3 linked regions of the Homo sapiens genome follow. The protein of the gene in region 2 interacts with the protein of the main gene of each other region in a pairwise test. Each region holds a gene or a part of one and is shown on either strand. Other genes may lie near its edges. The genes, in order: MCM3AP, SMAD9 and KDM6A.

Evidence for each region.
Region 1: the proteins of SMAD9 (region 2) and MCM3AP interact in a two-hybrid assay, tested with the Homo sapiens proteins (one large-scale study listed by BioGRID and IntAct).
Region 3: the proteins of SMAD9 (region 2) and KDM6A interact in a two-hybrid assay, tested with the Homo sapiens proteins (one large-scale study listed by BioGRID and IntAct).

What each region holds. Positions count from the first base shown.
Region 1 is NC_000021.9:46,275,596-46,279,252, forward strand, and holds part of MCM3AP (germinal-center associated nuclear protein), read right to left. Parts: intron 2,123-3,657; coding exon 1,932-2,122; intron 1-1,931.
Region 2 is NC_000013.11:36,850,697-36,854,353, forward strand, and holds part of SMAD9 (mothers against decapentaplegic homolog 9), read right to left. Parts: intron 2,980-3,657; coding exon 2,723-2,979; intron 1,822-2,722; coding exon of another isoform or gene 1,642-1,821; exon of another isoform or gene 1-1,641. UniProt on the Homo sapiens protein: Transcriptional modulator activated by BMP (bone morphogenetic proteins) type 1 receptor kinase. SMAD9 is a receptor-regulated SMAD (R-SMAD).
Region 3 is NC_000023.11:45,107,083-45,110,285, reverse strand, and holds part of KDM6A (lysine-specific demethylase 6A), read right to left. Parts: intron 2,877-3,203; coding exon 2,750-2,876; intron 208-2,749; coding exon 37-207; intron 1-36. UniProt on the Homo sapiens protein: Histone demethylase that specifically demethylates 'Lys-27' of histone H3, thereby playing a central role in histone code. Demethylates trimethylated and dimethylated but not monomethylated H3 'Lys-27'.

The sequences.
Region 1 (3,657 bases), on a different chromosome or scaffold from region 2:
CCGAGTCACCTCTCCAACAGTCACAGACCCTCACTGCAGATAAAAGCAGGGGAGTGTCCTCACTTTCAGCCGGAGTTTTCTAACTCCTGTAATGACCTCAATGACAAAAAATCATGGTGCAGGATGTTTACTAAAAGGATTGACTTGTAACAACTGCAAATATTCAAAATATATCACTATTCTAAAACTGTCTCAGTATTCACCATGACTTTAATATAAGAATCATATAATGGACGTTAACTGGGTTCTTACCTGAATGAGTAAACTGCTATTACACTTAAGTTACAATGTAGCTTGCAAGGAAAAGGAAATGCAACAACTTCACACTCAAAATATATACTTATTGTTTTCATGTTGAAAAATTCTAATACCTGGGCCCGGCCTGGTGGCTCACGCCTGTAATCCCAGCACTTTGGGAGGCCAAGACTGGCAGATCACCTGAGGTCGGGAGTTCGAGACCAGCCTGACCAACATGGAGAAACCCCATCTCTACTAAGAATACAAAAATTAGCCGGGCGTGGTGGCGCATGGCTGTAGTCCCAGCTACTCAGGAGGCTGAGGCAAGACAATCACTTGAACCCGGGAGGCGGACGTTGCAGTGAGCTGACGTTGCGCTCACTCTGTCATGGTACTCCACCATGGGTAACAGAGCAAGACTCCATCTCGAGGAAAAAAAAAAAAAGAAAAATTCTAATACCTAATAATAATTTTTAGAATATAAAAATCACTGTATCAATGATATGATGTTTGATGGCAGCTTTTATTACTATATGTTATTATATTAAGGAAACATGGTGATTATTCAAATTATCCACAGCTTTTAAAAAGAGGAAACTCCTATAGCTGATTTTTTTTTTCTTTTTGAGATGGAGTTTCGCTCTTGCTGCCCAGGCTGGAGTACAATGGCACAATCTCGGCTCACCGCAACCTCAGCCTCCCGGGTTCAAGCCATTCTCCTGCCTCAGCCTCCCAAGTAGCTGGGATTACAGGCATGTGCCACCACGCCCGGCTAATTTTGTCTTTTTAGTAGAGATGGGGTTTTTCCATGTTGGTCAGGCTGGTCTCGAACTCCTGACCTCAGGTGATCCACCAGCCTCGACCTCCTAAAGTGCTGGGATTACAGGCGTGAGCCACCACGCCCAGCATTTTTTTTTTTTTTTGAGACAGAATCTCACCCTGTTGTCCAGGCTGGAGTGCAGTGGCACAATCTCGGCTCACTGTAACCTCCACCTCGCCAGTTCAAGTGATTCTCCTGCCTCAGCCTCCCAGGTAGCTGGGACTACAGATGCACACCACCGCACCCAGCCTGCTTATTTATTATTTATTTATTTATTGTAGAGATGGGGGTTTTGCCATGTTGGCCAGGCTAGTCTTTAACTCCTGACCTCAGGTGGTCCCTCATGCCTCAGCCTCCCAAAGTGCTGGGATTACAGGTGTGAGCCACCATGCCCAGCCCGGCTGAAATTTAAGAGAAAAAAATTGGCTAAGAGAAGTACCTGTGTTTTTTCCTTTTATTTTTGGTCCCTGCATATATTTTTAGTGTTAATGGAATACTTACTTTTTAGTAGGTAATACATTCACACAGTTCAACATTGTAACAGTGTAAGAATGCCCTGTCCAAGACGGAGCACTCCACCATAACCTCTGCCCCTCGGAATCCCGCTCCCTCTACAGACAGGAGCCCATTCTTTTGCATCCTCCCACTACTATTTTATACATACATTAGCAAACATATTTGCACATTTATGTACACATACACGCAACACTCACTCCAAGAAGACAGGCAGACTATGAAGATCAGACACAGCATATCACAGGCTCTGAGACTCAACAGCAATAGAGCCCAATGGAAAGGAGTTGCTCCTGCCCTGATGGCACCCAAGATGACGACCTCACCAGGCCCCTAGAACCTCTGCCACCAAGTGCCATACCTTGCCGCATGATCCTGTCTCTCTGGTCAAGCAGGCGGTACTTCTCCTTGGATGTCTCAGCCACAGTGCCTATCAGGGTACTGAGGGAGAGCACACATGGCCCGAGGCCCTCGGAGCCCTCGGAGGCTGAGTCAAAAGAGTCTCCCTCGAATTGGTGGGCCTTTAGAAGACTTGGCTTCTTCACTGGAGAGCTATAAAGTAAACACCACACTGAGGGCCCTCGTCCCAGGAAGGCCTTCAGAGCATTTTCATTTCTGAACACGTCCCCTCATCTTTCAAGATTTTCTGGTCCTCTAAAGCTGAGAAACTACAAGCACTGAAATGAGATGAGTTTTGATAAGGATGGTAATGAGCACAAAAGCGTTATTCACATTACTCACTGACTTTAATATAATTTTGAAATATTTCATACTTTTGAAAAACAAAATAGCCTGGGCAACATAGGGAGACCCCATCTCTACAAAAAATTTAAAAATTAGCCGGGCATGGTGGCATGTGCCTCTAGTCCCAGCTACTCGAGAGGCTGGGGTGAGAGGATTGCTTGAGCCTGGCAGGCAGAGGTTGCAGTGAGCTGAGATTATTACACTGCTGCTCTCCAGCCTGGGTGACAGAGTGAGACTCTAACTTACCACCCCCCGAAAAAAAAAAAAAGATAGGCTCATTTAAACAGCTAAAATGAACACTTACTGATTTCTATTTCAAAGAAATAAACTCAGCATGAAAAAAGTCTTTAATATCATAAGGAAATATTAAGCCTACATGTTTTAAAACAGAAATTATTTTGGTAGAAGGACATACTAAAAGGAATCAGGCATTCTCTCTCAGCTTCCCCATTTTCTAGCTTTCATCATTTTCTGAACTTGAATGTCAAAGATTATGTCAAACCAGCAACTAAACTGCTCGTCACAAAACGGAAAGTGAGGAAAATACATTGGCCAAAAGATGAAAAGATGGATTCAGCCGGAGATCTGTCAAAGTAGGCCTGGTGTGAAAAGCAAAAGCCTTTGAGAACAGAGTTCCCCAGACAGACAAGGTAGCCAGGGCACTTCACATCACATGCCGGTTAACACAACTAACATGGCCGACCGTGTCTGCTTCACTGTGATAAGCTGCACCTGCAAAAAGTCATGCTGCCCTTCCTTTAGGAGACAGCCTTTTTTTTTTTGAGATGGGGTCTCGCTCTGTTGCCCAGTCTGGAGTGCAGTGGCGCAATCTCGGCTCACTGCAAGCTCCGCCTCCCGGGTTCACGCAGTTCTCCTGCCTCAGCCTCACAAGTAGCTGGGACTACAGGCACCTGCCACCATGCCCGGCTAATTTTTTGTATTTTTAGTAGAGATGGGGTTTCACCATATCAGCCAGGATGGTCTCAATCTCCTGACCTTGTGATCCGCCCGCCTTGGCCTCCCAAAGTGCTGGGATTACAGGCGTGAGCACTGCGCCCGGCCAGGAGACAGCTCTTCAGGAAAAAAAAAAAAAAAAAAGTAATGCTGGAAACTGCTGAAAGTGATTATTAGAAATGCATGGTTTGGCCGGGCATGCATCTCTAGTCAGGAGTTCGAGACCAGCCTGGCCAACATGGTGAAACCCCATCTCTACTAAAAATACAAAAATATTAGCTGGGCGTGGTGGAGCGCACCTGTAATCTCAGCTACTAGGGAGGCTAAGGCAGGAGAATTTCTTGAACCCAGGAGGCAGAGGTTGCAGTGAGCCAAGATCGTGCCACTGA
Region 2 (3,657 bases):
AACCTTTGGTGTTCTCATCCACACTTAGGGAGTTAAATACGGTCCCTTTGCAGACAATTCCCAAATTTGTATTTCAAGCCCAAACCTCTCTCCCCGAATCCAGACTCTTATATCGAACTGGCTACTCAGCAACTCCACTTGAATGCAACGGACATCTCAATTACACCTGCGTCTTCTCCATCTTGATTGAAGGCAACTAACTTCATCTTCCTCTTTTTCTCCCACGCCTGATCCGCCTTCACAATTCAGAATCCTTCCACTTCTCACAGCTGTACTGGATCCCTCCAGGTGGGGGCGACTCTCACCTGACTATTACTATAGCCTCCTAAGTGGTTTCCCTACTTGCAACCTTGCCTGTATAATATCTATCCTCCACACAGCAGGCAGGGCGATCCTTTAAGAATAGAAGTTAGATCATGAAAATGCTCTGCTCTGATCCCTGCAAAAGCTCGCCACCTCCTTACAGTCACCGCTGAACTCGTAGCAGAGGTTCAGGAGGCCTTGCTATGGTTCCCTGCGGCTGCTCTCATCTCACTTCCCCTGCTCATTAGGCCCCAGCCACACTGGCCTGCCTGCTCTTCAGAGTTTCCAGGTGTATGCTGTTGCCTTGCTCTTCCCTCTTCTTCTGCTCTTCCTCCAGGGGTCCCTGGGCCTAGCTCCATGTCTCCTTCCAGTCTCTGCTGACCTGTCACCTTTTCAATGAGGCCCACCCTCATGTGCAGATGACTCCACTGCCCCCGTGCTCCAATTCCCTTCACCCTGCCCCCAGACTTTCTCTTTCCATCCTTCTTCTGTGTTTTGGCTGTTGTTTATTATCCATCTCTCCTTCCTAGAATATTGGTTCCCTGAGGTCAGAGATCTGTGAGTAAACATTGGCATGTCCCACGTGCCTGGCCTGCACATGGCAGGTGCTCAATAAACATTTGTTGACTGACTAAGTCCTAGAATCAGTAAAAATCAGAGCTGAAAGAAACCTTAAAGAGATCTGATCCATCAGCCCAGTGGTAGCTACAGCTGCTCATCTCAAATGTTAAAAAAAAATGATCTATAGTTATATTTACTATGTATTTATTTTAAAAGTTCCTGCAGTATTAGGAACAGTTTGTCTTCTGTGTCAATTGTGTAGCTTTATGAATGTAAATGCTGCCTATCTGAGAAATGTATCTAGTTATTAGGAAAATCAGATTTCTATATAAGCTTATATTTAATCAGAGTGAAATAATTACCTATGAGATATTGGCATTTCATCCTAATTTTAAAAACACAGACCCGGAAAAAAAAAAAACTGTATGATTCAAATGATGCCCTCTGCCGTTTCTAAAGCAACAGAACATTTGAAAAGATTTCGAAGTTATTTGTTAATATAACTTTATAATATATGCTTTCAAAACACTAAATTTGAATGAAACTGCTTTGTCACCATGAAAGAGAAATAATTTCAAGCAGCTGTTTTTTAAAATTGGAAACTATATTGTTCTTACTTTTTAAATAATTACTAAAGTGATAATAAAAACATAATTTGAGTATAGAAAAATTATTTGTCATGGTAATTTTAAAGTGCTAATAAAATTTACTTTGAAAAAAATGCCTGGAACAAGCCATGCTGATTCCCTGGATGGAATCATGGCAGTAAGAAAACTGTCACACATACCCCGATACTTTGATAAGCCCATATTTTGAAATACTAGACTCATTTGCGAGTACTTTGCAACAGACAAAATAGCAGGTGATGAAACTGAAGGCTTTCACTTCCATATACAAACCCAGTTGTCTTTCCTTCCCACTAAGAAACTTCCTTGGTTCTCCAGCCTTCATAGCAACCTTAATAAGATTCGATATGAGAAATTCAACAAATATTCATCAACAGAACATATACTGCTCTCTGAATTAATCACACCCGTTTCTATTCCAAATTGTTTATACCTTTATAACACTACTTAGTTTATTATCTTGTATTAGAACCAACCCTGCCTATTTTTGTAGCTTATTCATAAATATTATCTCCTCCATGTGCCTGTATGCTTTCTAAGAGTAAGGAGAGTATCTTACTGAATTCAGATAAATTCACCAACATTCACTGAGTGATAACAGTGCTTGGCAATTGGAAGGATGGAAAAAATCTCTGTTGCACTAGTCCTGTAAAATTACTGTTGTTACTTTATCATCTGCATTAAAAACAATCAAATAGCCACCTTGTTTTTCCTCAAAAGTAATGTGTAACAATTTTCATATAATTGCTAAACAAGACAGTTTATACTCAAAGAGGAACTCCTCCTAAAAACAATAGAATTCAAAAAAATTGGTTTTGGGCTGGGCGCGGTGGCTCACGCCTGTAATCCCAGCACTTTGGGAGGCCAAGATGGGAGGATCACAAGGTCAGGAGTTCAAGACCACTCTGGCCAATATGGTGAAACCCTGTCTCTACTAAAAATACAGAAATCAGCCAAGCGTGGTGGTGCGTGCCTGTAGTCCCAGCTACCCGGGAGGCTGAGGTAGGAAAATCGCTTGAACCCGGGAGGCAGAGGTTGCAGTGAGCCAAGATCATGCCACTGCACTCCAGCCTGTGTGACAGAGTGAAACTCCGTCTCAAAAAATAATAATAATAATAAATTGGTTTTGTCTATCAGAATTGACCGCACAACTGCCTGCCACATCAGTCAGGGTGCTTTTTTGTTTTGTTTTTCACTGAACATTTTATAACGTGATAGCAAGCACTCCTTACCTTAACAAAACTCATCCGGATAGTACACATCTTGGTCAGTTCATACACGACTTCAAAGCCGTGGTGAACTGACTGGGCCAGGAGCTGAGCGAAGAGCTGGTTGTTGAAGACCTTGAGGCTGCAGCCGCTGGGGATCTTGCAGACGGTAGCTGGGTGGAAGCCGTGTTGATAGTTGCAGTTCCGGCTCTGCACAAAGATGCTGCTGTCACTCACGCACTCGGCATACACCTCTCCCCCGACGTAGTACAAGTGCACACCTGCAGACACAAAAACACAGCCTTCCTTCACATGCCCTTTCATAGCGTGCCTCTCCCACTGATTCCTGAAACCCTAGGAGATGTGACTCTCCCATCAGGTTGTCAGATCACTGATCAGATGAATGAGATGTGTGACCTAAATGCCGCTTAGTTTAATGATAATCTGTGCTTTTTCCACAAATCCATTTAAAAGTGGATCGCAGCTGGGTGCGGTGGCTCACGCCTGTAATCCCAGCACTTTGGAAGCCCGACGTGGGCAGATCATTTGAGGTCGGGAGTTCAAGACTAGCCTGGCCAACACAGTGAAACCCCTTCTCTACTAAAAATACAAAAATTAACCAGGCATGGTGGTGGGCACCTGTAATCCCAGCTACTCGGGAGGCTCAGGCAGGAGAATTGCTTGAACCTGGGAGGCAGAGGTTGCAGTGAGCCAAGGTAGCGCCACTGAACTCCAGCCTGGGTGACAGAGCAAGATGTCATCTCAAAAAAATAAATAAATAAAAATAAAAAAATAAAAGTGGATTGCAACCCATGTTAACAATCACTCCCAAGAACCAGTCAGTAAGGTCTCATATACTATTCCTCCCATCATTCCTGTTTATTTGTTCCAAAAATAAGGTTTTATAATATTAGAAATGAAGTGAATATATCACACAAAAAAATCAAGTAATCCTTCAT
Region 3 (3,203 bases), on a different chromosome or scaffold from region 2:
CAGCTAACTATGTACTCACATGTTGATTTGACTTACTAATGTAAATTGGTCATAGACTTGCATCAGGTCCTCCATTTTGTACTGTTCTAGCACCACAAAGTTTTCCAAGTTTCCGCTTGTTTTTCGTGCACAATCTTGGCAATGTACTATGTAGGTCTTTCGTGAATTACTCTCATTAGTGACAAAAAGCAGATCAAAAACCTCCACCTGTTTTATACAAGAGAAAAACGTATTCAATAGAGATAGTGGTATTTACTGTACTGCTTTAGTATAATCATGGAATTCTACTTGAATGAAATTGTGGACAGTGATCTCTGGTTAAGAGTAGGTGGTAAGAAAAACATGGCTGTGTTTGAGAATCTTTAACAGACCAGGTTTATTTTGCACCAAATCCAAAGACATGGGTAGTAATGCATATTTAGGGGAATAATCAAAGGGAATGACATACTCATGACAACCACTGGCAAAGCCCAGTTCAAAAGTTTGATAAAGGTCAACCTATTTTTAAATCTAAAACATTAGTATACAATCAGACATAAGTGATCATTTTTATGTATTCATGAGTACAGCATGATTTTAGAAATAATACCTCTATCTTATACAGAAAGATTGATGAGTTGCTAGGGTTCAGGTAGGATAAGGAACAACACACCTAACTGGAATCTATCTGATCTCCTAATGACTCACTTTGGTCAGGCCATATGACATTTAAAAAAAAAATCAATGGATTCTATCATTTCAAATAAAGGTTGATGCTAGAATTACAGAATTTCAAGGTTTGAAATGGACCATCAACATCCTGTCTTTGGCTTATCCTTAAATTTCTTCAATGACAGAAAACTCTTATGATCCCATGTCTTCTTTTAACAGTTAACTACAATCCTAGAGTTCACCATGTTATCCATTACTGTCAACAAGCAGCAATACAAACCTAGTGACCTGAGCTAGAAAATTGGTGAGCATTCTTCAACTTGTCCTTCCACTTCTGCCATTTAATGAGGTGTCTCGCTGATTTTACCCTCTAAATATTTTTGAATTCTTTCCCTTCTTTAATATTCCCATTGCCAGGTTCTAGTCTAGGCCTTAAAATAACTTTTTTTTTTTTACAGGTACTTTATTTATTTATTTATTTATTTATTTATTTATTATTATTATTATTTTTTTAAATTATACTTTAAGTTTTAGGGTACATGTGCACATTGTGCAGGTTAGTTACATATGTATACATGTGCCATGGTGGTGCGCTGCACCCACTAACTCATCATCTAGCATTAGGTATATCTCCCAGTGCTATCCCTCCCCCCTCCCCCCATCCCACAACAGTCCCCAGAGTGTGATGTTCCCCTTCCTGTGTCCATGTGATCTCACTGTTCAATTCCCACCTATGAGTGAGAATGTGCGGTGTTTGGTTTTTTGTTCTTGCGATAGTTTACTGAGAATGATGGTTTCCAATTTCATCCATGTCCCTACAAAGGACATGAACTCATCATTTTTTATGGCTGCATAGTATTCCATGGTGTATATGTGCCACATTTTCTTAATCCAGTCTATCATTGTTGGACATTTGGGTTGGTTCCAAGTCTTTGCTATTGTGAATAATGCTGCAATAAACATACGTGTGCATGTGTCTTTATAGCAGCATGATTTATAGTCATTTGGGTATATACCCAGTAATGGGATGGCTGGGTCAAATGGTATTTCTAGTTCTAGATCCCTGAGGAATCGCCACACTGACTTCCACAATGGTTGAACTAGTTTACAGTCCCATAACTCTTAAGACCACTGCAATAGCTTATATATCGCTGTCCTTTCCAACCACTTTTCTCCCTGAAACACATATCTTACTTACCCTTAGTTGCCTGCTCAAAACCTTTTAATGGCTTCAATAACCTTGGAATATCAAATTCCTTAAAACCATTCAAGATGTGCTATAAATTAAATGCCACCTAGACTTATGAGCGGAATTTGCACAGTCTGTGTTCCAGCCAAATCGGAACACATTCAACCTTTTCTAAAACCATTTCATTTCCCTGTTCTCTTCTTGTGCCTATAGCCCATGACAGTCTACCTCCGATTCTCATCACTTTTTTAGTCTACTTGATATCATACTCTTTTTTCCAAGGATGGACTCAAATGCTAATACGTTTGTGAGTTCTTATGCCAATACTAGAAGAAAAAATTAGGTCATTTTCCCCCTCAGTGTTATCATTAACAGGAAGTCCAACTTCACATTCATCATAGTCTCATGTACATTACAATTAGTTGTTTATAATCTGTCTGCTCCAAGTAGAATTTAAGCTCCTTCATAGGAGGCACCACATCTTTGTTCCTGCACCTCTTGCAAGCCTTGGCCACACAAGATTGACAAATGTATTGTTAATTGCACCAGAGAGGACTGATAATCGATCTGCCTAGAGTTACACCAAACATCCAGTTTATTGGCATCTGTGTACATCTAGATTGTTCTTAGTTTAAAATCTCAGACTAAATTTGCTGATTATTGTCTGTTGAAGATCTACCACAAAAATGACTCTGCAGTAGATACTTTTAAGGTTAATTCACAGTGAAATATCATTATTATCACACTGAATTTTAATATAATGGCTAAGCAACAAAATTGAATCCAATGTTAATTACTATAAACTGGATTACATAAAAGTATAAAAAAGTTTTTTAAAAATAAAGAGAAACCAACAGTGGAGAGGGAAGAGGCTTTATAAAACAACTGTGGATAAAAACAATTACTTACTTCACAAATGCTACAGTAATGAGCTGGTTCTTCTTTTGTCCGCCCATGCCATATAATCTCTTTTCCTGCAGCAATGAGAGCTTCCCTCAATGTCTGACATTGCTTCAGAGTTCTTAGAAGACAATACCTATTGTGGGGGAGAAATTATTTGTGACCAGCAACTGAATATTGAATATTTTTAGCATAAAAGATATACCAACTAGAAATAATGCCAAGAGACTTGATTCTAATGTCTATGACTTCATAATTTTTCTTTCATCAATTTATCAAATATTCTCAGATTTTAAAATGACAATGCTCAGCAGGCCTGATGAAGACAATATTAAAACATTTAAAGTTGAGAAAAGTAATATCTGGATATCAAAATATAATGGTCTTAGTACATAAAAACTGACTCCCTGCTTAAATGTGAGTTGCTAATTTTGGCTCTTAATTTGGGCAAGTCAGTTAACCT